7 linked regions of the Homo sapiens genome follow. The protein of the gene in region 1 purifies or fractionates together with the protein of each later gene. This does not show direct contact. Each region holds a gene or a part of one and is shown in the gene's direction. Other genes may lie near its edges. The genes, in order: DYRK4, TRIM4, PJA2, TRIM71, TRIM56, UBE3C and ST13.

Region 1 (3,500 bases):
CTTTGAGCAAGGGTTAAGTTGTACTGTTGGAAGCCAGAGTTCATGCATAAAAAAAGAAAGGCACAAAATAGTCTTTAATAATCACAGAATTATCCAAGGGATGGCAAAGTTGGAATAAGTCACAAGAGATTTTTTTTTCAGTCTGTCAGTATTTTTGTAGAATTAAAGAAATTTAGACCCCAAAGGGACTTTAGAAGTCACCTGCTCCAGTCTCCAGTCTCATTATTTTGCAGATGAGGAAATAGCACAGAGAGGACAAATGGCTCATTCAAAATCATGGCACTGTGTGTTAGGTGGCATTGTGACGAGGCTCCATGATTCCTCAGCGTTTCCTTCAGTGTTTGCTCCTTCTCTGCCTCCAGCGCTGTCAGAGCTGAACAGAGGAAAGGGCTCCAGCTGTTTGGAAGATTTCACATTTACTTTTTTTTTTTTTTTTAAGATGGAGTCTTGCTCTGTTGCCCAGGCTGGAGTGCAGTGGTGCAATCTCCGCTCACTGCAACCTCTGCCTTCCGGATTCAGGAGATTCTCCTGCCTCATCCTCCCGAGTAGCTGGGATTACAGGCGTGAGGCACCACACACAGCTAACTTCTTTTGTATTTTTAGTAGAGATGGAGTTTCACCATGTTGGCCAGGCTGGTCTTGAATTCCTGACCTCAGATGATCCACCCGCCACGGCCTCCCAAAGTGCTGGGATTACAGGCGTGAGCCACCATGCCCATCCCACATGTACTTTCATAGTCTCCTACATCTCTGTGAAGTAAAGGAAGGCAACACTCGATACAGAGTCTTGGCAGGAAAAATTTTTGTGTTCATTTTTGCCCAATGTTGCGATTTTACAAATCCCATGTCCAGTTGATGGCCACAATTCTACCTGTTCTGTCTCCCAAATCTTTCCCAAGTTCATACTTCTATCCCCACTGTCAGTGCCTTGGTTGAGGCTCTCATTCACTCTTATCTAGACACCCAAAATGCCTTCCTAGTTCCTCCAAATCGTGCTTCGTGATATTGCCAGAGAAATGGTACCAGAATACAAATCTGATCTTCAGCCCAGGTTTAGCATAGCCACGCAGGCTCCAAGACTCTAACTTGGACTACGTGCCCCTTTACAACCTAATCTACCTCCCTGGCCCTCCATCGGCAATGTCCAAGGACAGTGCTCAAAATTTCTGGAAAAAACAATGTTCTTTCATATTTATGTTCTTTGTGTGTCCTCCTCCATCTGCCCTTGACACTCCTGCCTGCTCTGCTCATTCTTCAGAGATGGTTCTACCCTGCTCAAGCGTGAAGGCTTCCTCAGCTCCTCCAGCTGACTTAGTCAACACCTGGAAACATGCTCTGGGAGCTGGTTGCAGAAGGCTGTATTAATACATCGATCACATGCATTGTCATGATCTACTTTCTTCTATGTACCTCCTTTCCTGGATAAGGAGTTTTCTTTGAGGGCAGAGACCATGTCTGGTTTATCAGTGAAATTGTCTCAGCAAATGTTTATAGAAAGAAAGGAAGAGAAGGAAGAAGTGAAACTATGATCTTAAGCAGAGAAGTTACTGGTAATTTTTGTTTGCTTTTGTGCAGGATTTTTTCATATTGTCTGTATGTGTGTGTATGTTAAAGTTAATGTTCCTACTTACCTCCCCCAGCCCTACTGAGAAGAGGTCACTATTACAGTTCATTTCTTCTAGATCTTTCAATATGCCTGTATAAAGACATGCAAGCATTTTGTTTTCTGTTAAATAAATATAGAATTATATTACACACATGTTCTACTGTTTTTGCTCAATACATTATGGGCACATATAAAGATCTATCTTATTTTTTAAATGGCTGCATTATATTTCATAAAACATATGTGTGCCATGAATTGTTAACTTCCCATTATGGACAAGTTCTGATTTTTCAATAGTTATACTGCAAGAAATGTTAGCATGACTTTTCTTTAATCCTCTGAATACTTTCAAAGTTGTGGTGCCATCATCATTTATATGGTGTCTGCAAGAGCCTGCCAGTGGAGTGATTTGCAGAAGCTGTCATAATATTTGCATTGGTTCCTGTTCTGCCCTTGTTTCTTGTATTCTTGATTCCTCTGGCTCTTGGCTAAAGCTAGAAGCCGAAAAGGGACTTGCAAAGGACACAGAGCAAGCGGTTTCAGCTGTACTCTGCTAATGTAACAGGGAATGTAAGTGTCCTGAGACCCCTCTGAGACTCACCTTCCACTTATAGAAATTACTGCTTACACTAGATTCCATAAATGTGTGCAAGGTTTTTTTTGTCTTGCAGTAAGTCAATTATTAATAGAACTGTGCTGTGAATGAAGAAGATGCAAACATGGCCAAATGAGAGTTAGAGGAAGTGTTTCTACCAATTGTTCCCCTTTTCTTTTTCTATAGGCATTAAACTATCTAAGTAGCCCATGAATACGCCCATCCTGTAAGGGGATATTATGTTTGTGGCAAAAGCATGAGGTTTACTTTCCAGTTAAGTAGGGGAAATGGTTTTTTTCCCCTTTGGTTGTCTAAACTGCTAATCACCTGATTATCTCTTCCTCCTTCCCTGGCTTCTGTCTGACCTCCTGACCTCATGTGACCATCAGAAGGGAAGCAAGGGAGAAGCAGGGACCCTGCTCCTGCTTTTAGGCCTGTTGCCTTCTTTTCTTCAAACCTGCCTGCTTTCTTCTGTCCCTGAGTGTGTGGGCCATTACTTAGATTTGACTCCTCCTGCCAATTTATTTTTTACTTTCCCTCATGCAGGACTCAAATGGATGCTAAAAAGCCAAGGAAATGTGATTTGACTCCCTTCCTGGTTTTGAAAGCAAGAAAGAAACAAAAGTTCACCTCTGCGAAGGTAAAGATCCTTGAATTTTCACTGGGGAAGAGAGGTATCATTGCGAGGTCCTAGGGACTCAGGACCCAGTGCTGATGGTTGTGCCCCAAGCACCTCTGGGTACAGCGCAAAGGCAAAGGTGTGGAGGATCATGCTGATTGGCAGGGCCAAATCTGGGTGGGTGTGGAGGGAAAATCAGCAGAAGGGCAAGGCCTTAATCTAACAGGTAAGCTGTATTCCAGAAGGCCCTGGGTGAGTGCATCCATGGTATCTTTTATTCTGCTGTATATATGTGAGATCCTACTGGAAGTTACCTGGAATAGTTGAAGAACGTTTCCAGAAAAGATCTGCTTTTTTTCTTTTTTTTTTTTCTTTGAGACGGAGTTTCACTCTTGTTGCCCAGGCTGGAGTGAAATGGTGCAATCTCAGCTCACTGCAACCTCCACCTCCTGGGTTCAAGCGATTCTCCTGCCTCAGCCTCCCAAGTAGCTGGGATTACAAGCATGCACCACCACGGCTGGCTAATTTTTGTATTTTTAGAGGAGATGGGGTTTCTTCATGTTGATCAGGCTGGTCTCGAACTCCCGACCTCAAGTGATCTGCCCGCCTCGGCCTCCCAAAGGGCTGGGATTACAGGCGTGAGCCACCACGCCTGGCCAAGACCTACTTTTTTTCTAATA
Region 2 (2,814 bases), on another chromosome or scaffold:
CCCAACAGCTATATACTACATATTTTTTTCAGTGTACGTGAAACATTTTCCAAGATAGACTAAGCTGGCTGTAAAGCAAGTGTCAAATTCAAAGGATTCCGATCATTCAGAGTATGTTCTCTGATCACAATGGAATTGATAGAAATCAGTATCAAAATATCCTTAGAAACCCCCCTAAATATCAAGAATCTAAATAATAGACTTTTTAGTAACCCTTGAATTAAAGAAGAAATCAAAAGGCAAATTAGGAAGTAGTTTGAATGGAATGAAAAGGAAAAGACAATATACCAGAATTTGTGGGATGCACCTAAAGCAAAACTTAAAGAAAAGTGTATAGTGCTATATTGGAAAGAAGAAACTTCTCAAATCACTGACCTCAGCTTCCACCTTAAGACACTAGAGAAAGAGGAGCAAGTAAAGCCCAAAGTAAACAGAAGAATGGAAATAATAAAAATCAGAGCAGAAATCATTGCAGTGAAATACAGAAAGCCAACAGAAACCAATGAAACCAAAAGCTGGTCCTTTGAGAATTTCAGTAAAATTGACACACCTTTAATCAAAATGATCAGAAAAAAAGAAAACACACATTACTAATGTCAGAAATGAGAAAGGTGACATCATTACAGATTCTGCAGATATTAAAAGGATAATAGAATATTAAGAGCAACTTTTTGCCAATAAACTTGACAATATAGATGAAATGGATGAAGTCCTTAAAAGACACAAATTACAAAAGCTGACTCATGAAGATAGAGATAACTGGAATAATCTTATTTCTATGAAAGAAATTGCTATTAGAAACCTTCCAAATGGCTTTCGTTTTGTTTCTTTTCTTTCTTTTCTTTTCTTTTTTTTTTTGGGGGGGGGATGGAGTCTTGGTCTGTTGCCTAGGCTGGGGCGCAGTGGTGCAATCTCAGCTTACTGCAACCTCCACCTCCCAGGTTCAAGTGATTCTCCTGCCTCAGCCTCCCAAGTAGCTGGGACTGCAGGTGCGCGCCACCATGCCTGGCTAATTTTTGTATTTTTTTTTAGTAGAGATGGGGTTTCACCATGTTGGTCAGGCTGGTCTTGAACTCCTGACCTCGTAATCCACTGCCTTGGCCTCCCAAAGCATTGGGATTACAGGCATGAGCCACCGCGCCTGGTCCCCAGATGATTTTCTTGGTGAAACATTTCACCAAACATTTAAGAAATAAATGCCAATTCTTCAAGAACTCCTATTGAAAATTGATGAAGAGGGAATATTTCCCAATTCTTTCTGTGAGGCCTGTATTACCATGATGCCAAAATCAGACAAAGACGTCACAAGAGAAAAGAATTATACATCAATGTCTCTCATGAACATAGATACCTAAATTCTCAGAAAACTTTAGCAAATTGAATCCAACAATATATTAAAAGGATAATATGTAATAATCACAACCAATTTATATATCCTTTGGTATACAAAAAGGATAATGTATAATAATCACAATATGTGAGATTTATCCCAGAAGAGCATAGTTGGTTTAATATTTGAAAATCGATGTAGTTTATATCACTAAAGTAAAAAAAAAAAAAAAAGGAAAACCATGTGATTGTCTCAGTGGAAGCAGGAAAAGCATTTGTCAAACTCTAGCATACATTCCTGATTTTTTTTAAAAAAAGTCCTCAAACTCAAGAGACATGGAGAGTTAGAGGGAAGGGAATTTGGAGTCAGGGAGGCCAGGGAGGACATTATTAACACATTGAGTGACACTGGAGATTGGAGTAAAGGCAGTGGCAATGGGAGTGGAGGGGAGGAAAAGAACCTGAGTGACAAATTTCAGAGGTAGAATTGGTAGGACTTGGTGACTAACTAGCTATTGAAGGTTAGAGGAAAGAGTCGAAAATAAAGATTTAAAAGCATGAGTGTTCAGGTGGAGGGGACTCTGACACCTTAGAGAACATAGAAGGCAAGATGTCTGCATATGAAGTGGATTAGTCCCGAGAGTATAGAAGGGGGTGTAAGTAAGATAATTAGTTCAGTTTTGAATGATCTGTGGGGAGATTTGTGGAGATGCCCCATAAACAACTGGAACCCGTGAAAAGAGACCTCATTATTCTGTCCTATGTGACACCTGTGTGTATCTAGCCAAAGAACCAGCTAGTCGGCAGCCTTGGTTCTAGTTTTGATTCAACGTGAGAATTTGTTAATATCTCTCCAAATTTTAGGCTGTTTGTGAAAACTTGGGGCATGAAATAATTAGATCCCCAGTTTCTAGAGGTTAGTCTTTTTTTTTTTAAAGATAGAATCTTGCTCTGTCACCCAGGCTGGAGTGCAGTGGCACGATCTCGGGTCACTACAACCTCCGCCTTCTGGGTTTAAGTGATTCTTCTGCCTCAGCCTCCCCAGTAACTGGGATTACAGGTGCCCACCATCATGCCGGGCCAGTTTTTTTGTTTGTTTGTTTTTTGGTATTTTCAGTAGAGACGGGGTTTCGCCATGTTGGCCAGGCTGGTCTCACTCTCGTGACCTCCAGTGATCTCCCTGCCTCAGCCTCCCAAAGTGCTGGGATTACAGGCATGAGTCACTGCGCCTGGTCTAGGGCTTAGTCTTTTAGAGCAGAAGGGAAATGAGGACTTCAGGTTGCTAAAGGCCATGCTGTGGCCTGCTAGGCCTGGCTGAGGATCAGTTGGGCAGCAGTGGAGTCATGAGTGTTTGTTAGGAGGAGAAAGATGAAACTGATGCTGGAAAAGATGGGCATTTCTGGGGAAGGGTTGATGATAAGCTGCTGCACTACTTAGCTCTCATTTTCTCCACAGTGGCTGTAAACCTAGCTGAAGACACAGCTC
Region 3 (3,500 bases), on another chromosome or scaffold:
ATTTATTAGGATTAGTATTATTTGTTTTACAATTTTTTTTAGAGTTTGCATGTGAACTCTTCTGGTCCTAGAGTTTTCTTTGCTGGAAGGCTTCAAAGGATAAGTCCAATTATCCTTTAATAAATACAGGATTATTAGGGTTATCTATTTCTTCTTGAAAGCTTTCGGTCTTTGTATGAATCACTTTCACTCACTAAGTGAGCGTTAGTAGTTTTTGTCTTTCAAGGCATTTGTCTTATTTCATTTATTCGTTGTCATAAAGTTGTTTCTTAATTATTTTAATGCCTATAACGTCTGTAGTGGTGTCTTTCCTTTCATTCTTGTTATTAGCAGTGTGACCTCTCATTTTTATTTGGTTCTAGGTTTATTTTATTAATCTTTTCAGAGTCAACTTTTTATTTGATTGCTTTTTTTTTAATTGTTAGTTTTATTGATTTCTGCTTCTTACTATTTCTTTCTATATGCTTTGGGTTTAAATTCCTCTATGTTAATTTATTAAGGTGTAAGCTTAGGTCATTGACTTGAGACCTTTTTTCTTTTCCTTCCAAGCACTGCCTGAGGTGCTTACACAAATTTGATGCACTGATTTTTTTTAAAGTTCTTATGTCACTTCCACTTTGACCCATGAAGGTTGCTGTTTAATTTCCAAATATTTGGTGATTTTGCATGTCTCTTTCTTTGTATAATTTATTTTAAATTCTTTGATATTTGTTTTATGACCAGAATATGGTTACTCTCAGTAAATGTCCCATGTACACTTCAAAATAATGTGTATTCTGCTGTTTAGCAGTGGAGTATTCTATATCAAGTTGATTGATGATGCTTGTTAGGCCTTCTCTTTCCTTACTGAGTTTTTGTTTGTTTCATTGATCATTGAGAGAAGAGTTGAAGTCTCCAAGTATAATGGTAAGTTTGTTTATTTCTCCTTTTCAGTTTTTGCATCATGTGTATTGAACCTCCTGTTAGGTGCATGTAAATTTAGGATTGTTAAAACTTTTTGGTGAATGAACCCCTTAATCATTATATAATGCCCTCTTTATCTCTGATAGTATTCCTCATTCCAAAGTCTACTTTATCTAATATTAATACAGCCTCTCCAGCCTCCTTTTAGTGTTTGTATATTATTTTCCATCCATTTAATCTGTCTTTTATTTAAAATGGGTTTGTTCTAGACAGCCTTTTTTAATTCATCTTGAAAAATCTGTTTTTACATTGAAGTGTTTAGACTATTTACATTTAATGTAATTTTGATGTAGTTGGATTTAAATATACAATCTTAATTGTTTTCTACTTATGTGCTCTCTGATGCCTATTTTTGAGTGCATTTTATCTTCACCATTGGCTCACTACTTACACTCAACTTTTCCTCTCTTTTAAAAAGTTAATTGGCTTCTCTGTGATTTATATTTTACATCTTTAATAATAGACCATATGGAAGCAATACTATACCACATTTTATATAGTGTCAGAGCTTTACAACAGTATATTTACAATGTATATTTACAATTTCTCCTTATCTTTTGTGCTATTACTGTTTTACCTTTTACAAATGCCATAAATGCATAATACCTTGTAATATTTGTTTTATTCCTGTGCTGTCTAGTATGGTAGTCATTAGCCAGTGTAGCTATTTAAATTTGAATTTAAAGTAGTTAGTACAAGTTAAATTAAAATTGATTTTCTGTGTTATAGTGGCCTCTTTTCCAGTGCTTATTCTTTCTGCATGAAGAACTTCCTTTCACATTTCTTGGACTTCAATTCTACTGGTAACAAAGTTCCAAAGATTGTTTCACAAATACTTTGTTTCACTTTTTCTTTTGAAAGATTTTGCTGGATATAAATTTATTGTTCACAGTGTTTTTCTAATATTAAGGATGCTATTTATTATCTTTTGACTTGCACAGTTTCAAATAAGAATTTGGCTGTGATTCTTATTTAGTTCCTTTTTTCTGCTGTCAGTATCAAATATGTTTTATCAGTGGTTTTTAAATTTTATTTTATTTGTTGTTTTTTTTTGAGACAAGGTCTCGCTCTGTTGCCCAAGTGGAGTGCAGTGGTACAAGCTTGTCTCACTATAGCCTTGAGCTTCTAGACTCAAGCAATTCTCCCACCTTAGCCTCCAAAAATCCTGCATTTGCAGGCCTGAGCCACTGTGCCCAGGCTGTCATTGGTGGTGGTAGCGGTTGTTTTTGAGACAGAGTCTCACTCTGTCGCCCAGGTTGGAGTGCAATGGCGCCATCTCAGCTCACTGCAACCTCTACCTCCCGGGTTCAAGTGATTCTCATGCCTCAGTCTCCCAAGTATCTGCGATCACAGGCTCCCGCCACTACGTCTGGCTAATTTTTGTATTTAACAGGGTTTCACCATGTTGGCCATGCTAGTCTCAAACTCCTGGCCTCAAGTGGTCTGCCCTCCTTGGCCTCCCAAAGTGCTGGGATTACAGGCATGTGTCATTTGGTTTTTTTGTTGTTGTTGTTTTGTTTTTTGTTTTTGAGACAGAGTCTTGCTTTGTCTCCCAGGCTGGAGTGCAGTGGCGCCATCTCGGCTCACTGCAAGCTCTGCCTCCCAGGTTCATGCCAGTCTCCTGCCTCAGCCTCCTGAGTAACTGGGGCTACAGGCACCCGCAACCATGCCTGGCTAATTTTTTTTGTATTTTTTTAGTAGAGACGGGGTTTCACCATGTTAGCCAGGATGGTCTCAATCTCCTGACCTCGTGATCCACCTGCCTCTGCCTCCCAAAGTGCTGGAATTACAGGTGTGAGCCACCATGCCCGGCCATATCATTCGTTTTTTATAGCAGGTTAAAGATGTTAACATCTTGGGATATGTGTACATTTTTGTGTGTTTTGTATTTATACTGCTTTTGTAGGGGGGAATCACTGAGCTTCTTGGGATTTATGATCTTTTAAATAATGTATGAAAAATTCACAGCATCTTTCTCTTCTAATGTTTCCACTGCCCGCGACACCCCCCCGCCCTTCCCCCCCCTCCCCCTGCTGGTTTGCTCTCTTTTTGTGGGGTTCCAGTTAAACTCATGGCAGCTCATTTAATGCAGTCCACAATTCTTGGAGGCTCTGTTTTGGTTTTTGTTGCTGTTGTTTTTTAACATGTTTCTTTTCAGTTAAATCACTTTTTATCTAGGCTTGGATCATTTCTTTTGACTTATCTTTTTCTTTTTTTTTTTTTGAGACAGTCTCAGTCCATCACCCAGACTGGAGTGCAGTGGTGTGATCTTGGCTCACTGCAACCTCTGCCTCCCGACTTCAAGCGATTCTCCGTACCTCAGCCTCCTGAGTAGCTGGAATTATGGGCGTGCACCACCACGTCTCACTAATTTTTTGTATTTTTAGTAGAGACGGGTATCACTATGTTGGTCAGGCTGATCTTGAACTCCTGACCTAAAGTGATCCACCCATCTTGGCCTCCCAAATTGCTGGGATTACAGGTGTGAGCCACTGAGCCTGGCCTGATTTATCTTGAGCTCACTAAAAGCTTCCTCC
Region 4 (3,500 bases), on another chromosome or scaffold:
GGCTACTACCACATTTCTGGCTATAGGACCCTCCACACAGCTCCAGTTTATTTCCTTAAAAATAATTTTACACCTGTTTCAGAGAGAATTACATCCATGCACATCCTTACCTATCGATTGTTTTAACAGCTCTAAAATTGTGGTTTTTCAGTTTCAAATTGTGGTTAGATGAGACATGGAGCTTCTAAATGAAGCATGAAATCCTACCAAAGTTCTGCTCCAACTTTTAGCTGGAAGGTTTATAAAAGTGGATTTCATTTTATAGTTTTTGGACAATGCATTCTTTTAAAAATTCATTGTTTACTAATAACGAGCACATTGAGGCCATTCTTTTACTCACTGGTAGCTTTTTATTATCAACCATTTGGGTGCTCCCTGTCCCCATCTCTGTTGCAGGCGGCCTGGAGCTGTGAAAGCACTGGCTCTTCTGAAACCACAGTGTGTTCTGGGTACTTAGAACTGCATCGATCCTGTGTAAAATGATACCAAGCAGGGATTGCATTCAGAGACCCCTTTCATTTGTATATCTGGGCTCTCAAGGCTGGTCACAGGAGGGCTCTGGTGTCGGCTCAGGGCACCCTGCCTTTCGCTGCCATACCGGCCACTACCTGTTCTGACCAGGATTTTTTTCTGGCTACTGCATCTGCAGAATCTTTTAAAACCTACCATTCATGGGGGGATTGCAAATGTCCAGCATCATCCAGGTTCTGTATTTTGAGGTTGATCTAAACCTAAGAAAAATCACCTTAATTCTTTATAGTTACATAGTTGGAGTCTGGAATGGGCACCCTGGCTCAGCCCAGAACTTACTACTTGTTCTGTTGTTGTTGTTTGTTTTGCACTCTTAGCCCGTGTTGCCTAGGCTAAATTCAGTGCCATGGTCACGGCTCACTGCAGCCTCAACTTCTTAGGCTCAAGGAATCCTCCCACCTCAGGCTCCTGAGTACAAGCGTGAGCCACCACGCCCAGCAATTTTTTTTTTTTTTTTTGGTAGTTTGGGCCCAAGTGTTCCTCTAGCCTCAGCTTCTCAAGGAGCTTGGACTACAGGCATGAGCTGCCACGTCCAGCTACTAGAACTTAATTTTGAAGCTCTTTAGTTTCTGTTGTCAAGTCTCTATTAGGTAGACTTTCTGGGGTGGAAGGGGGTCTTCCGGAGGTACCCAGTCAGGCCCCTTTTGTTTCACAGATGAGACTGAAGCCCAGACAGGTCAAGAGAGGTGATTGGACAGATGGTTCCATAGCCAGGTAGTGCCAGTACTCACTAGCCATGGAGATGAGAGCAATCTAGGTAGTTACAATTTGCAAGAGCCCCTTAGTCCGAAGGAAGCAGGAGAGTGCCATTCAGTCCACACAGCTGTCTTGAGAAGAGGGAAAGAACGGATGCGTTCTCAAGGTTGCTTAGCTGTTAGAAGCAGGGAGGCCACCCGAAGGTTTGGTGGCATGTTTTATTCACATGTACAAGAAACTTTCTGATGGAAGGGTTTTCACACTTCACATCAGCATAGGAGTGATCCCTTCATTCCCATGACAAATGGAGAGAGCAAAGGAAAGGAACGTCGTTCAAACTGGTAGAATTGCTTTAGCACCAGGTCGTAAAAAGGGATTGGCCAGGAATTTTTCCTGAATTTATCCAGCTCAGCATCTTTTGATTAGTATTTATACTTGAGAATTTTAGATTTAAAAGATTATTAGGATTAGATAATCTCTGAAGGATAGATCAGCTTTAAAAGCAACTGATTTAAAGGAGGCAAGTTGCTGCTACCTGGTTTCAGTCTGCCACCATTGCTGGCAAAGCACTGCAGTGATCAAAATTAGTAGGAAAGTTACAAACCTTACCACATTTCCCTTGTATAAAGTAGGATCTGGGCCGGGTGCGTTGGCTCACGCCTGTAATCCCAGCACTTTGGGAGGCCAAGGTGGGTGGATCACGAGGTCAGAAGATCGAGACCATCCTGGCTAACAGGGTGAAACCTCATCTCTACTAAAAATATAAAAAAATTAGTTGGGCGTGGTGGCAGGCACCTTTAGTCCCAGCTACTCCCAGGGAGGCTAAGGCAGGAGAATGGCATGAACTCGGGAGGCAGAGCTTGCAGTGAGCCGAGATCGCGTCGCCACTGCACTCCAGCCTGGGTGACAAGAGCAAGACTCTGTCTCAAAAACAAACAAATAAAGTAGGATCCATAAAAACCTCCTGGTTATAGCAGAACTGTTACTTAACAAAAGTAAAAACACAATATCCTAAATCTTTCGTTTTTCCTGTTTCTGAATCGTAAAGTTTCTAGAGAACCAGTTTAACCCATCCTAGATTACACACTTCCCTATTAACTCAATTAGCCCCGAGTGGAGTAACTTCTGTGTGCTTGAGTGAACCATTTAGGGGGAGCATTTTTCTAGTGGACACACTTTATGTGAAGATTTTGGTTGTTAATAAAATAAAGAACTTGGAGAAGGAAAGAAGCAGCAGTCTCCCTCTGTTTGCCCCCAGCCCTCTCTTTTTGGAGCTCTCCGCCTAAGAAAACCTTCTGGGCCACTTCCAAGCCTTCTCCCCATCTCTGTCTCCCACAACACTCTGCCTTGCTTCTCACCAGAATGAGCTTCTATTCAGTCTGCGCAGAATCGCCTGGAATCTCACATCCTGGATCTCCACCATACCTAGCAAGGTGCTTTGTACTGGTGATGAGAGAGCTGGTGTCATACCTGTGTTGGAACCAGCTCTGTAGAAGGCTCATGCTGGCTTCCCTGCTGTGTCTTTGCTAACACTGTGGCCTTGAGCACTCCCCAACTCCTGTCCTCACCTGGAGATGAAGTGTGGGTGTTGTATTTGTATACTGCTTCCCTGCCTGTTGCATGTTAGCTAGCTTCCCCTCATGCCCAGGTGTACCAGAGGCAAATTTAAGCTCTGCTCTTGAAAGCAATCCAGCAAACATTTACAGAGTGGCGCTAAGTGCCCTGCTCTGTGGAGAGATACAGTAATGAGACTGGCCCAGTTTCTATGCCAAGGAGTTTTCTCTCTTGAGAGCTCCTTGTTTATTAGCAGGTAAAGGTTGTGCCAGCCCTTCTCTCTCTTCCTCCCTCCCTCCCTCCCTCCCTCCCTCCCTCCCAGCGTGCTGGGCCCCAGGGAAGTGTAGAACATCACATAAAGCAGTTCTGTCAGCACTGGCTGCCTCCCAGGTTCAACTCCTTGGAATAACTTGGCATGAAGAAGAAAGGCAAGGAGCTGGCTGACCTTACCACTAGCTTTTTGCCTTCGTTCCAGAAACTTAAGCCTGTAGCTTGCTTGAGTGCCTGGGAGAACCATGCTTTGCACTTTGCATTACTACCTGTGGTGTGAGGATGGTTGTTACTGGCTCTTAACCTTGCTTCACACATCTAGGCTAGAGCAGCAAAGGAAACTTTTCTGGTACATTCTTACATCCAGGCCACTAATATCAGACTAGGTAACACAGTCTTAACAACTTTTCTGGATAATGAAGCTAAGATTCAGGGCAAACTCTCATGCC
Region 5 (3,500 bases), on another chromosome or scaffold:
GGTTTCACTGTGTTGGCCGGGCTGGTCTCCAGCTCCTAACCGCGAGTGATCCGCCAGCCTCGGCCTCCGGAGGTGCCGGGATTGCAGACGGAGTCTCGTTCACTCGGTGCTCAATGTTGCCCAGGCTGGAGTGCAGTGTCGTGATCTCGGCTAGCTACAACCTCCACCTCCCAGCCGCCCGCCTTGGCCTCCCAAAGTGCCGAGATTACAGCCTCTGCCCGGCCGCCACCCCCTCTGGGAAGTGCGGAGTGTCTCTGCCTGGCCGCCCATTGTCTGGGATGTGAGGAGCCCCTCTGCCCGGCTGCCCAGTCTGGGAAGTGAGGAGCGCCTCTTCCTGGCCGCCATCCCATCTAGGAAGTGAGGAGTGTCTCTGCCCGGCTGCCCATCATCTGAGATGTGGGGAGCACCTCAGCCCCGCCGCCCCGTCTGGGATGTGAGGAGCGCCTCTGCCCGGCCGCGACCCAGTCTGGGAGGTGAGGAGCGTCTCTGCCCAGCCGCCCCGTCTGAGAAGTGAGGAGCCCCTCCGCCTGGCAGCCGCCCCGTCTGAGAAGTGAGGAGCCCCTCCGCCCGGCAGCCGCCCCGTCCGGGAGGGAGGTGGGGGGTCAGCCCCCTCCCGGCCAGCCGCGCCGTCCGGGAGGGAGGTGGGGGGTCAGCCCCCGCCCGGCCAGCCGCGCCTTCCGGGAGGGAGGTGGGGGATCAGTCCCCGCCCGGCCAGCCGCCCCGCCCGGGAGCGAGGTGGGGGGCGCCTCCGCCCGGCCGCTGTCCCGTCCGGGAGGTGGGGGGTCGCCTCTGCCCGGCCGCCCCGTCTGGGAGGTGAGGAGCCCCTCTGCCCGGCCACCACCCCGTCTGGGAGGTGTACCCAACAGCTCATTGAGAACGGGCCATGATGACGATGGCGGTTTTGTGGAATAGAAAAGGGGGAAAGGTGGGGAAAAGATAGAGAAATCAGATTGTTGCCGTGTCTGTGTAGAAAGAAGTAGACATGGGAGACTTCATTTTGTTCTGTACTAAGAAAAATTCTTCTGCCTTGGGATGCTGTTAATCTAAGACCTTACCCCCAACCCCGTGCTCTCTGAAATATGTGCTGTGTCCACTCAGGGTTAAATGGATTAAGGGCGGTGCAAGATGTGCTTTGTTAAACAGATGCTTGAAGGCAGCATGCTCCTTAAGAGTCATCACCACTCCCTAATCTCAAGTACCCAGGGACACAAACACTGCGGAAGGCCGCAGGGTCGTCTGCCTAGGAAAACCAGAGACCTTTGTTCACTTGTTTATCTGCTGACCTTCCCTCCACTATTGTCCTATGACCCTGCCAAATCCCCCTCTGCGAGAAACACCCAAGAATGATCAATAAAAAATTAAAAAAAAAAAAAAAAAAAGAAAACCAAGAAGATGGGAAAACCATGCAGAATTGATTTGACGAGGAAAGCCTTGGTCTCTAATACATGCAATGACTAGAACAGTATTTGGTCAAAGAACCACATAAGCTCTGTACCCTGGAGGAAATGTATGCAGGCAAGGACTAGTAAAATAAAAAATAATAATAATTAAAAAAAAAAAAAAGAAAGGCTGGACGCGGTGGCTCACACCTGTAATCCCAGCACTTTGGGAGGCTGAGGTGGGTGGATCACCTGAGGTCAGGAGTTTGAGACCAGCCTGGCCACTACGGTGAAACCCCATCTCTACTAAAAATACAAAAATTACCCGGGTGTGGTGGCGCATGCCTGTAATCCCAGCTACTGGGGAGTCTGAGGCAGGAGACTCGCTTGAACCTGGGAGGCAGAGGGTGCAGCGAGCCGAGTTCACCCCATTGCACTCCAGCCTGGGTGTCACAGTGAGACTCTGTCTCAAAAAAATAATAAATAAATAATTAAATCCACTTGCAGTGGTCAAAAATAAATGTTAAATAAATGGGTGAGAAATCTTGCGGAGAAATAGACTCCTGGCACTATAAAAATGATCCTGGAGAATAATTTGGCTAGACTTTGCAAGAATGACAAAAATGATTATAAGAATCAGTTGTCTCACTTTGGGGAATACATTCTGGGAAAATAATGTAAGAGAAAAAATATTTGCATACAGACATTTGAGGCTGCTCTGTATATTACAGGCAAGAACTGGAAACTGTTCGGCTGCAGGGTGACAGCTAACTAGATTGTGGTTTATTAGGGGAATGAGCCTTTCTTTGTGTATGACAACTATGAAAACTATTGAGAAGAAATAGTTACGTGATACAGTCATAATCCTCAAAAACGGAGAATCAGGAATTATGATCAAATAGTGATAGTAACAAGGAAAACATCTGTCTAAATAATTACTGAGTAGAAATAGGTTCGGAATTTGTAAATAGTCATTAATTTGGGAGATTGGGGTTTTTTTTGTTTTGTTTTTTGTTTGTTTTTCATTATTTTGTGCTATTATTCATACGTGTACATTTCTACTTCAGTTTTTATTATCCATTACATAACATACATGCTTGATTATTTGCTTCAAGGAAATACACCTTTATAAGTAATACTCAATAACTACTGGGTTTGAGAATGAAGGTGTCAGAACGAATGAGATTGTCCTATGAAAGAAGAGGCAGGAGCCAGGGAGGAGGATCCCACCCGGCCGGGGCTCAGCCAGGAGGCAGGGCCATTGGGGCAGGGTGGCAGTCCAAGGAACCGCTCTGGGAAGGTTTGCAAAGGTCGGGGTCCCCCCTGCCAGGTGATCGAATTATCGTGGAGTGTCTGGAAGGCGGGGGAAGTTTTGTTGAGTTCACCAAATAACTCAGACCAACTGGAAACCAAGTGGAGTTTCTACAGGACCAACTAGAATAGGGATCAGCTACATGGGGGCGGGGGGAGGGGGGCAGGGAACGGTGTCTGTCTTCATTGCAGCTCTGTCTGCAGAGCCAGCACTGTGATACCTCATAGTAGGTGCTCAGTGAATGTCTGTGAAGTGAATTACTATCTAGACAAGGATGAGACTGGTATGACTCTCCAAAGCTTTCCCACCTCCAAAACCTCGGCTTGTGGGGAATCTCCAGTAGGGGGCACTGTGGACACGGTTCGCATCTGCCTCCCAAGGCTGGGCTCCGCGTCAAAAAAAAAAAAAAAAAATGAGACTGAGCCAGGTGCAGTGGTCACTCCTGTTATCTCAGCACTTTGCGTGGCCAAGGCGGGAGGATGTCTTGAGGCCAGGAGTTCAAGACTAGGCTGGGCAACATAGCAAGACCCCATCTCTACAAAAAAATTTTTAAATTAGCCAGAGGTGGTGGCATGCACCCGTAGTCCCAGCTGCTCGGGAGGCTGAGGCAGAAGATTGCTCGAGCCCAGGAGTTCAAGGCTGCAGTGAGCTCTGATTGTGCCACTGCACTCCAGCCTGAGTGACAGAGCAAAACCTGGTTTCCTAAGGGGGGGATAAAAGAGGGAGAGATGAGATCGGGGTGTCCCGCTTCTGTGCATGTGGAGGGGGTAACTGGGAACCGTGTACTGTAGGGGATCGCACACCTTGGG
Region 6 (3,500 bases), on another chromosome or scaffold:
TAATACTCTTGTGCTGGGTCCTAGATGATACGCATGTTCAGCTGTTGTGCACACCGCTGCCACAGTTTCCCCGTGTCGCACGCCCACAGCATCTGAAGGTATCCAGGTTTCCACATCCTTGCCAACACTTGATATTGCAAGTCCTTTAATTTTAGTGAGGATGTAGTTTCTTTGTGGTTTTAATTTTGTTTCCTGACAACTAATTATGTTGAGCACCTACATATGCTTGTTTTCCTGAATTCTCTTTGACTGCCGCATAAGTCCCTTCCCTTGTTGGAAAAATGAAGTTATAGTGACCCTTTTCTCATGTCTTAAATTATTATTTGAAATCTTCCCTTTCTGGAGCTTAGTGGAAAATGGAGTGGTTACCACCTTTGAATAAGCTTTTTCTTTTTTCAAATTAAATACTTTTAGTATTTATTATTTGTATAGATCTGTGTACGACAAGTCTGACTTGAAGAAGTTGATAATCTTGTTGGGCAGATAAGACTTAAGCAATTAAAAATTAAATAACAATAGAGTAATTGCTACATTCTAAATTTCCCTTGGTCCTGATTCAGAAAAAGTAGAATTGTTTGGAGCTTAGTCCTGAAGGATGGGTGTAATTAGGATGGGTGGAAGACGAGAAGGCATTCCAGGTTCGTGGAGCGGGGTGTGTGGAGTACATGTAGATTGGATTACATTGATTCAAAGTCACTTTGGGGAGCTAAACATTGATTACACATGGACATAAAGATGGGATGATAGACACCAGGGACTACTAGAGGGGGAAAGAGAGGGACGGGGACAAGGGCTGGGAAGCTACCTGTTGGTAACTGTGCTCACTCCCCGGGTAATGGGATCATTCACACCCCAAACCTCCGCGTCCTGCAGTATATTCTTGTAACAAACGTGCATAGGTACCCCCTAACTCTAAAATAAAAGTTGAATTTTTTTTTTTTTTTTGAGATGGAGTTTCGCTCACGCTGGAGCGCAGTGTTGCCCAGGCTGGAGTGCAATGGTGCGATCTCAGCTCACCACAAACCTCCACCTCCCGGGTTCAAGCGATTCTCCTGCCTCAGCTTCCCGGGTAGCTGGGATTACAGGCCTGCACCACCACGTCTGGCTAATTTTGTATTTTTAGTAGAGATGGGGTTTCTCCATGTCGGTCGGGCGGGTCTCGAACTCCCGACCTCAGGTGATCCGCCTGCCTCAGCCTCCCAAAGTGCTGGGATTACAGGTATGAGCCACTGCGCTCAGCCTGAAATTTTTTTTTAAGTCACACTGATTTCTATCTTTAAATATTTCTGACATCGGGATACACACTGATAGCATGATGCAGTTTAATTGGGGGTATGTTTTTCTTGGTAGTGTATAGAAGAATATCACGGGGTCATCTGATTTCAAGTACAGAAATGGACTAAAACTAGCTTAGTAGGCAAAACAAAAAGAAACAAAAACAAGTTTATGAAAGGATAGGCGTGTCTGACAGAATAGAAAGGTCAGAAACACCCAGATAGCAGGTATCACCACCACAGGAGTTGCTTGTCTTTCTCCAGGAGCTGGGTGCACTCCCTTCTTCCTGTCTCCTTCATTCCTGGCTCTGCAGACTGGCTTTCTCCATTTCTCACACATGGTTTCCTAGCTTAAGCGTCAAGAAAGTTTGATCATAATTACCAGTTTTCAGGAGAGGAAAGTCTGATTGGCCTGGGTCATGTTTCCACCTGATAACCTCAGTCTGAGGAGGGCTTGGAGGCTTGGTTCAGATGGAACAGTCTAGGTGCACCTGAGGGCTGGGGTAGATTCTTCAAGAAGCGGGGAGTGGTCGTTGACTGAATGCCTGAGTTCCTGTGGGACAGGCACAGGAAGGAGTCTAGGCTAGAGATGCAGATTTGGGGGTTATCAACAGAATGGTGGCTTCGAACACAGGTCCTTAAGAGGACTTGGAGTTTGGGACAGGGTGGGACTCGTGAGGTACTGCAACATTTAATATGTGTGGGAGTTGGGGATACTTACAAAAGAGTCACACCTCCGGGAGTGGAGGAGAGTGGTGTCCAGGGAGTGAATCTCAGGGAGGGAGGAGTGACAGGCAATGCCAAGTGCTGCACAGACACAGTGAGTCCACTGACTGCGGAGCTGGGAAGAATTGGGTGATTTGAGCATATTCTGTAGGGTAGTCAGAGTTGGAAGTCAAGAGCATAGCACATTGGAGAGTGAATGGGAAGTCACAAACAGGGCCGAACACAGGCCGGATGCTGTGGCGCACGCCTACAATCTGCCACACCGAAGACTGAGGCGGGAGGATCGCTGGATCCCGGGAGTTCAAGGCTGCAGTGAGCTGTGATCATGCCATAGCACTCCAGCCTAGGCGACACAGCATGACCCCATCTCTTAAAAAATAAGGCAGGGGCAAGGCAACAGTGTAGACCTTTTTTGAAAAGCACCGGAAGATTGGATGATAGAGGGAAATTCGGTGTCTCGGAAATAGTTTTGTCTGTTTTGGGAGACGGGGGAAACTTAAGTTTATAGACTGGGAAGGACGGGGGTTAAAAATGTGGGGAAGACAGGAGTGGCATAACTTTCAGAGTCTTCGAGAATACCCGAGAGGGGAGAACTGAGTGGGAGCAGGCAATGGGAAATATTTTGAGACTTAAAGAAGCTAGGGATGAATATGGATATAGAAAAGTTTGTAGACCGGAGGAACTGAAATTTTTTAAGTTTTTGTAGATCTGACAATAGTGGGAGTAGAATTAAGATCACTTTAATGTTTGTCCAGTGCTTTTTTTAAAAAAAAATAGACTTTATTTTTTAGAGCAGTTTCAGGTTTACAATCAAGCAGAGGGTAGGGTTCCCATATGCCTAGTCTCCCTCACCTCACTTTTCTCTATTACTAGCATCTGGCATTAATGTGGATCATCAGTTACAATTGATAAACCAATGTCGATGTGTTATTATTAATTGAAGTCCATAGTGTACATTCAGGTTCACACTGTGTGTTGTGCATTGTGTAGGTTTTGACGAATATATGATGACATGTATCTACCCTTACAGCGTTATACAGAAGAGTGTCATTGCCCTAGAAATCCTCATTGCTGGCCAGGTGTGGTGGCTAATGCCTGTAATCCCAGCACTTTAGGAGGCCGAGGTAGGCAGTCAGGAGTTTGAGACCAGCCTGGCCAACGTGGTGAAACCCCGTCACTACTAAAAATACAAAAAATTAGCTGGGCGTGGGAGGCTGAGGCAGGAGAATTACTTGAGCCCTGGAGGTGGAGGTTGCAGTGAGCCTGGATTGTGCCAGCGCATTCCAGCCTGGGTGACAGAGCATGACTCTGTCTCCAAAAAAAAGAAAAAAGGAGGAGGCCCGGCACTTTGGAAGGCCAAGGAGGGTGTATCACCTGGAGTCAAGAGTTCGAGACCAGCCTGGTCAACATGGTGATACTCTATCTCTACTAAAAATACAAAAATTAGCCAGGCGTGGTGACAGGTGCCTGTAATTGCAGCTACTCAGGAGGCTGAGGCAG
Region 7 (3,500 bases), on another chromosome or scaffold:
GCGTGTGCTACCATCTCCAGCTAATTTTTGTATTTTTAGTAGAGACGGGGTTTCACTATGTTGGCCAGGCTGGTCTCAAATTCCTGACCTCGAGTGATGTGCCCGCCTCTGCCTCCCAAAGTGCTGGGATTGCAGACGCGAACCACTGCGCCCGGCCCATGGTAGTATTAAGTGTAATGTTTGATCGGTTATAATTTGTAAGAACAAATCATGTATAAACTTGGGTACTGTGGCTGCTTGAGTAATATTTCACTCTTTATAACAGTGATAGTGTGTCACAATGCCATAGTTGACTAGATGCTATTGTATAGTGCTCATGTGCATTTGGACTTCATTATTAGATTTAGAAGATGATTGAAGTTATTTTTAGAATGAGTTCAGTATTGATGTTCCGAGTTAGTATATATTTTAAACATTTTGTGATTCTACCACCTGATTAATTTAGCTCCTTAAAACATGTTTATACTGTTTTATACTGCAGTTGCCTTAATAGTTTACCTTCCTGAAAAATTTATTCCTTTATTGCTTTCTGTTTACTTTCCCTAGGTTATTCTTAGAGCTGTTTTTTATTCTACTCTTGCTTGTAACCTGTGATTAACTTTTGCATATATATTTAAGATCTTCATCAGAGGATTATAGACCTGCCAGACTAAGATCCTGTATTTTACTTCTCCAATCTTGTTTTCTCCAGTCAGACTTTACTGTTCTAGAATTTTTTTTTTTTTTTTATTTATGCTATACTGTTTCTCTGGAAAGCTTTTCTTCACATATTTCAACTTTTAATTCATACCTATCAGTTGTTCCCAGCCATTGCTCTTCTGTACCATTCCTTTTCATCGCACGAAACTTTTGCTAATTTCCCTACCACCTAAATTTTAAGAGACAGAGTCTTACTCTGCCACTCAGTTTGGAGTGCAGTGGCATGGTCATGGCTCACTGCAGCCTCAAGTTTTGTAGGCTCAAGCAATCTTCCTGAGTAGCTGGCAATACAGGTGCCTGCCACCATGCCTGGCTAATTATTATCTCTTTTTTTTTTTTTTGGTAGAGATAGGGTTTCATCCTGTTGCCCAGGCTCGTCTTGAACTCCTGCCCTCAAGCAGGCCTCCCAAGCTCAGCATCTGAAAGTGCTAGGATTACAGGTGTGAGGCACTGTGCCCAGCCCATTTTAAAATTTACTGTCTCGGCAATATGTAACAAAAGGAAAATGAGGCTATCACCTAATCATGTTTTTGTTTTCTCACTTTTTTCTGAACTCTCTGTTCATGTGCCTTTGTAAATTTAATCTAGTTCTGATTTTAGAATTTATGCAATTGTATAGTGTATTCTAAAGGATAAAAGATTAGTATTCTAAAGCAGGGGTTGTGAATCCAAGCTCCACCAAGGTTGGTGAAGGCAGTTTTGTTTGGAGAATGTAATTAAAACCTGGAGTATGGAGCCAGAGTGGTATGGTTTGAATCCCACGTCTGGCACTTAACTGTGGCTGCTTTCCCACTACAACAGCATCATTGAGTAGTTATGACAGATTGTATGGTCTGCAGAGATTAAAATAATTCTTATTTGGCCCTTTCCAGAAAACGTTTACCAACTCCTGAACTAAATGTATGGAGGAGCCATTTGTTTAGTTGGGAAGATACAGATTGGGAATAGATTTGGAAATGGGCTAGGAAATGGGAATTCAGTTTTTCGGTTTTGAGTGGGCGTGGTGGTTCACACTTAACAATCCCAGCACTTTGAGGGGCCGAAGCGAAAGGATCTCTTGAGTCCAAGAGTCCAAGATCAGCCTGGTCAACACAGTGAGACTCCATCTCTTAAACACAAAAAATTAGCTGGATGTGGTAGCACGTTTCTGTAATATGAGCTACTTGAGAGGCTGAGATGGGAGGTTCCCTTGAGGCTGGGAGGATCCTTTGAGCCCAGGAAGTTGAGGGTGCAGTGAGCTGTGATTGTGTCACTGCACTCCAACCTGGGTGACAGAGCAAGACCTTTTTTTTTTGAGATGGAGTTTCAGTCTTGTTGCCCAGACTGGAGTGCAATGGCACGATCTTGGCTCACCGCAACCTCCGCCTCCCGGGTTCAAGCGATTCTCCTGCCTCAGATTCCTGAGTAGCTGGGATTACAGGCATGCGCCACCATATGCGGCTAATTTTATATTTTTAGTAGAGACGGGGTTTCTCCACGTTGGTCAGGCTGGTCTTGGTATTTCTCCATGTTGGTCAGGCTGGTCTTGAACTCCCGACCTCAGGTGATCCACCTGCCTCGGCCTCCCAAAGTGCTGAGATTACAGGCGTGAGCCACTGTGCCCAGCCAAGACCCTGTCATAAAAAAAATTTAGGTTTTGAACATGGTAGGTCTGAGTTGTTTATTAGACATTTAAGTGTAATTACCTATAATAGATACCTGTAGTAGTAATTAATAAGACTGAGCATTTTTCTGTGTTGTTTTTGTGAGTTCTTTTCAAGTCCTTTACTCATTCGCTAACTGGCTAAGTATCTTTCACAGTGAATTGTGACATTTATTTAAAAATTTCTGTGTTCGGCCTGGCACAGTGGTAATCCCAGCTACTCAGAAGGCTGAGTTGGGGGGATTACTGGAGCCCAGGAGTTCGAGAGCAGCCTAGGTGACACAGTGAGGCCCAGTCTCTAAAAAATTTTTTTTAATTAGCCAGGTTTAGTGTTGTGGGCTTGTATTCCCAGCTACTCAGGAAGCTGAGGTGGGATGATCACTTCAGCCTGTGAGCTATGATCATGCCACTGTACTCTAGCCTATGTGAGAGTTAGACCCTGTCTCTTAAAAAAAATTCTGTATTTGTCTTGCCTCCCCAAGATTTAGACTTTGTGCAAAGAACTCTTCTGATTCTATAGGGTGTTTTATTTGTTGAATGACATAAGGGATTAGTAAAGAAGCTAACTATGAGAATAGGACAAAATGAATTAAAGTATAGGTTATGGTCTTTTATGAATTCTAGTTTTCTTGAATTTTTGTACCATTTCTTTGAATTCAAATAATAAGCATATTGTTGTTTTCTTTTAAAATCAGCCCTGTGAAGTTAACATGGGTTACTTTTCCTTTCTAAGCTTAATTTTTTCTTTTTAATTTAATGGATAAAAGAAAATCAATGGAATAAAATTAATTTATCTTATCCTTTAAATTGATTTTATCTTTTTACTTTTTTCTTTTATTTTTATTTTTATTTTTTTGAGACGGAGTCGTGCTGTGTCACCCAGGCTGGAGTGCAGTGGTGATCTCGCCTCACTGGAAGCTCCGCCTCCCGGGTTCGCGCCACTCCTCAGCCTCCCAAGTGGCTGGGACTACAGGGCTCCGCCCCCACGCCCAGCTAATTTTTTGTATTTTTTAGTAGAGATGGAGTTTCACCGTGTTAGCCAGGATGGTCTCGATCTCCTGACCTCATGATTTGCCTGCCTTGGCCTCCCAAAGTGCTGGGATTACAGGCGTGAGCCACCGTGCCCGTCTACTTTTTCCTTAAACAAGATCAATATGGG

Evidence for each region.
Region 2: the proteins of DYRK4 (region 1) and TRIM4 purify together in Homo sapiens (affinity purification with mass spectrometry, with the first as the bait; one large-scale study listed by BioGRID). This does not show direct contact.
Region 3: the proteins of DYRK4 (region 1) and PJA2 purify together in Homo sapiens (affinity purification with mass spectrometry, with the first as the bait; one large-scale study listed by BioGRID). This does not show direct contact.
Region 4: the proteins of DYRK4 (region 1) and TRIM71 purify together in Homo sapiens (affinity purification with western blotting; one study listed by BioGRID). This does not show direct contact.
Region 5: the proteins of DYRK4 (region 1) and TRIM56 purify together in Homo sapiens (affinity purification with mass spectrometry, with the first as the bait; one large-scale study listed by BioGRID). This does not show direct contact.
Region 6: the proteins of DYRK4 (region 1) and UBE3C purify together in Homo sapiens (affinity purification with mass spectrometry, with the first as the bait; one large-scale study listed by BioGRID). This does not show direct contact.
Region 7: the proteins of DYRK4 (region 1) and ST13 purify together in Homo sapiens (affinity purification with mass spectrometry; one large-scale study listed by BioGRID and IntAct). This does not show direct contact.

What each region holds. Positions count from the first base shown.
Region 1 is NC_000012.12:4,565,208-4,568,707, forward strand, and holds part of DYRK4 (dual specificity tyrosine-phosphorylation-regulated kinase 4), read left to right. Parts: intron 1-2,625; exon of another isoform or gene 2,626-2,747; coding exon 2,748-2,841; intron 2,842-3,500. UniProt on the Homo sapiens protein: Possible non-essential role in spermiogenesis.
Region 2 is NC_000007.14:99,892,717-99,895,530, reverse strand, and holds part of TRIM4 (E3 ubiquitin-protein ligase TRIM4), read left to right. Parts: intron 1-2,784; coding exon 2,785-2,814. UniProt on the Homo sapiens protein: E3 ubiquitin-protein ligase. Mediates 'Lys-63'-linked polyubiquitination of the innate immune receptor RIGI, this linkage doesn't lead to proteasomal degradation but seems to enhance IFN induction.
Region 3 is NC_000005.10:109,399,975-109,403,474, reverse strand, and holds part of PJA2 (E3 ubiquitin-protein ligase Praja-2), read left to right. Parts: intron 1-3,500.
Region 4 is NC_000003.12:32,869,997-32,873,496, forward strand, and holds part of TRIM71 (E3 ubiquitin-protein ligase TRIM71), read left to right. Parts: intron 1-3,500.
Region 5 is NC_000007.14:101,091,981-101,095,480, forward strand, and holds part of TRIM56 (E3 ubiquitin-protein ligase TRIM56), read left to right. Parts: 3' UTR 1-3,500.
Region 6 is NC_000007.14:157,141,926-157,145,425, forward strand, and holds part of UBE3C (ubiquitin-protein ligase E3C), read left to right. Parts: intron 1-3,500. UniProt on the Homo sapiens protein: E3 ubiquitin-protein ligase that specifically catalyzes 'Lys-29'- and 'Lys-48'-linked polyubiquitin chains.
Region 7 is NC_000022.11:40,836,140-40,839,639, reverse strand, and holds part of ST13 (hsc70-interacting protein), read left to right. Parts: intron 1-3,500. UniProt on the Homo sapiens protein: One HIP oligomer binds the ATPase domains of at least two HSC70 molecules dependent on activation of the HSC70 ATPase by HSP40. Stabilizes the ADP state of HSC70 that has a high affinity for substrate protein.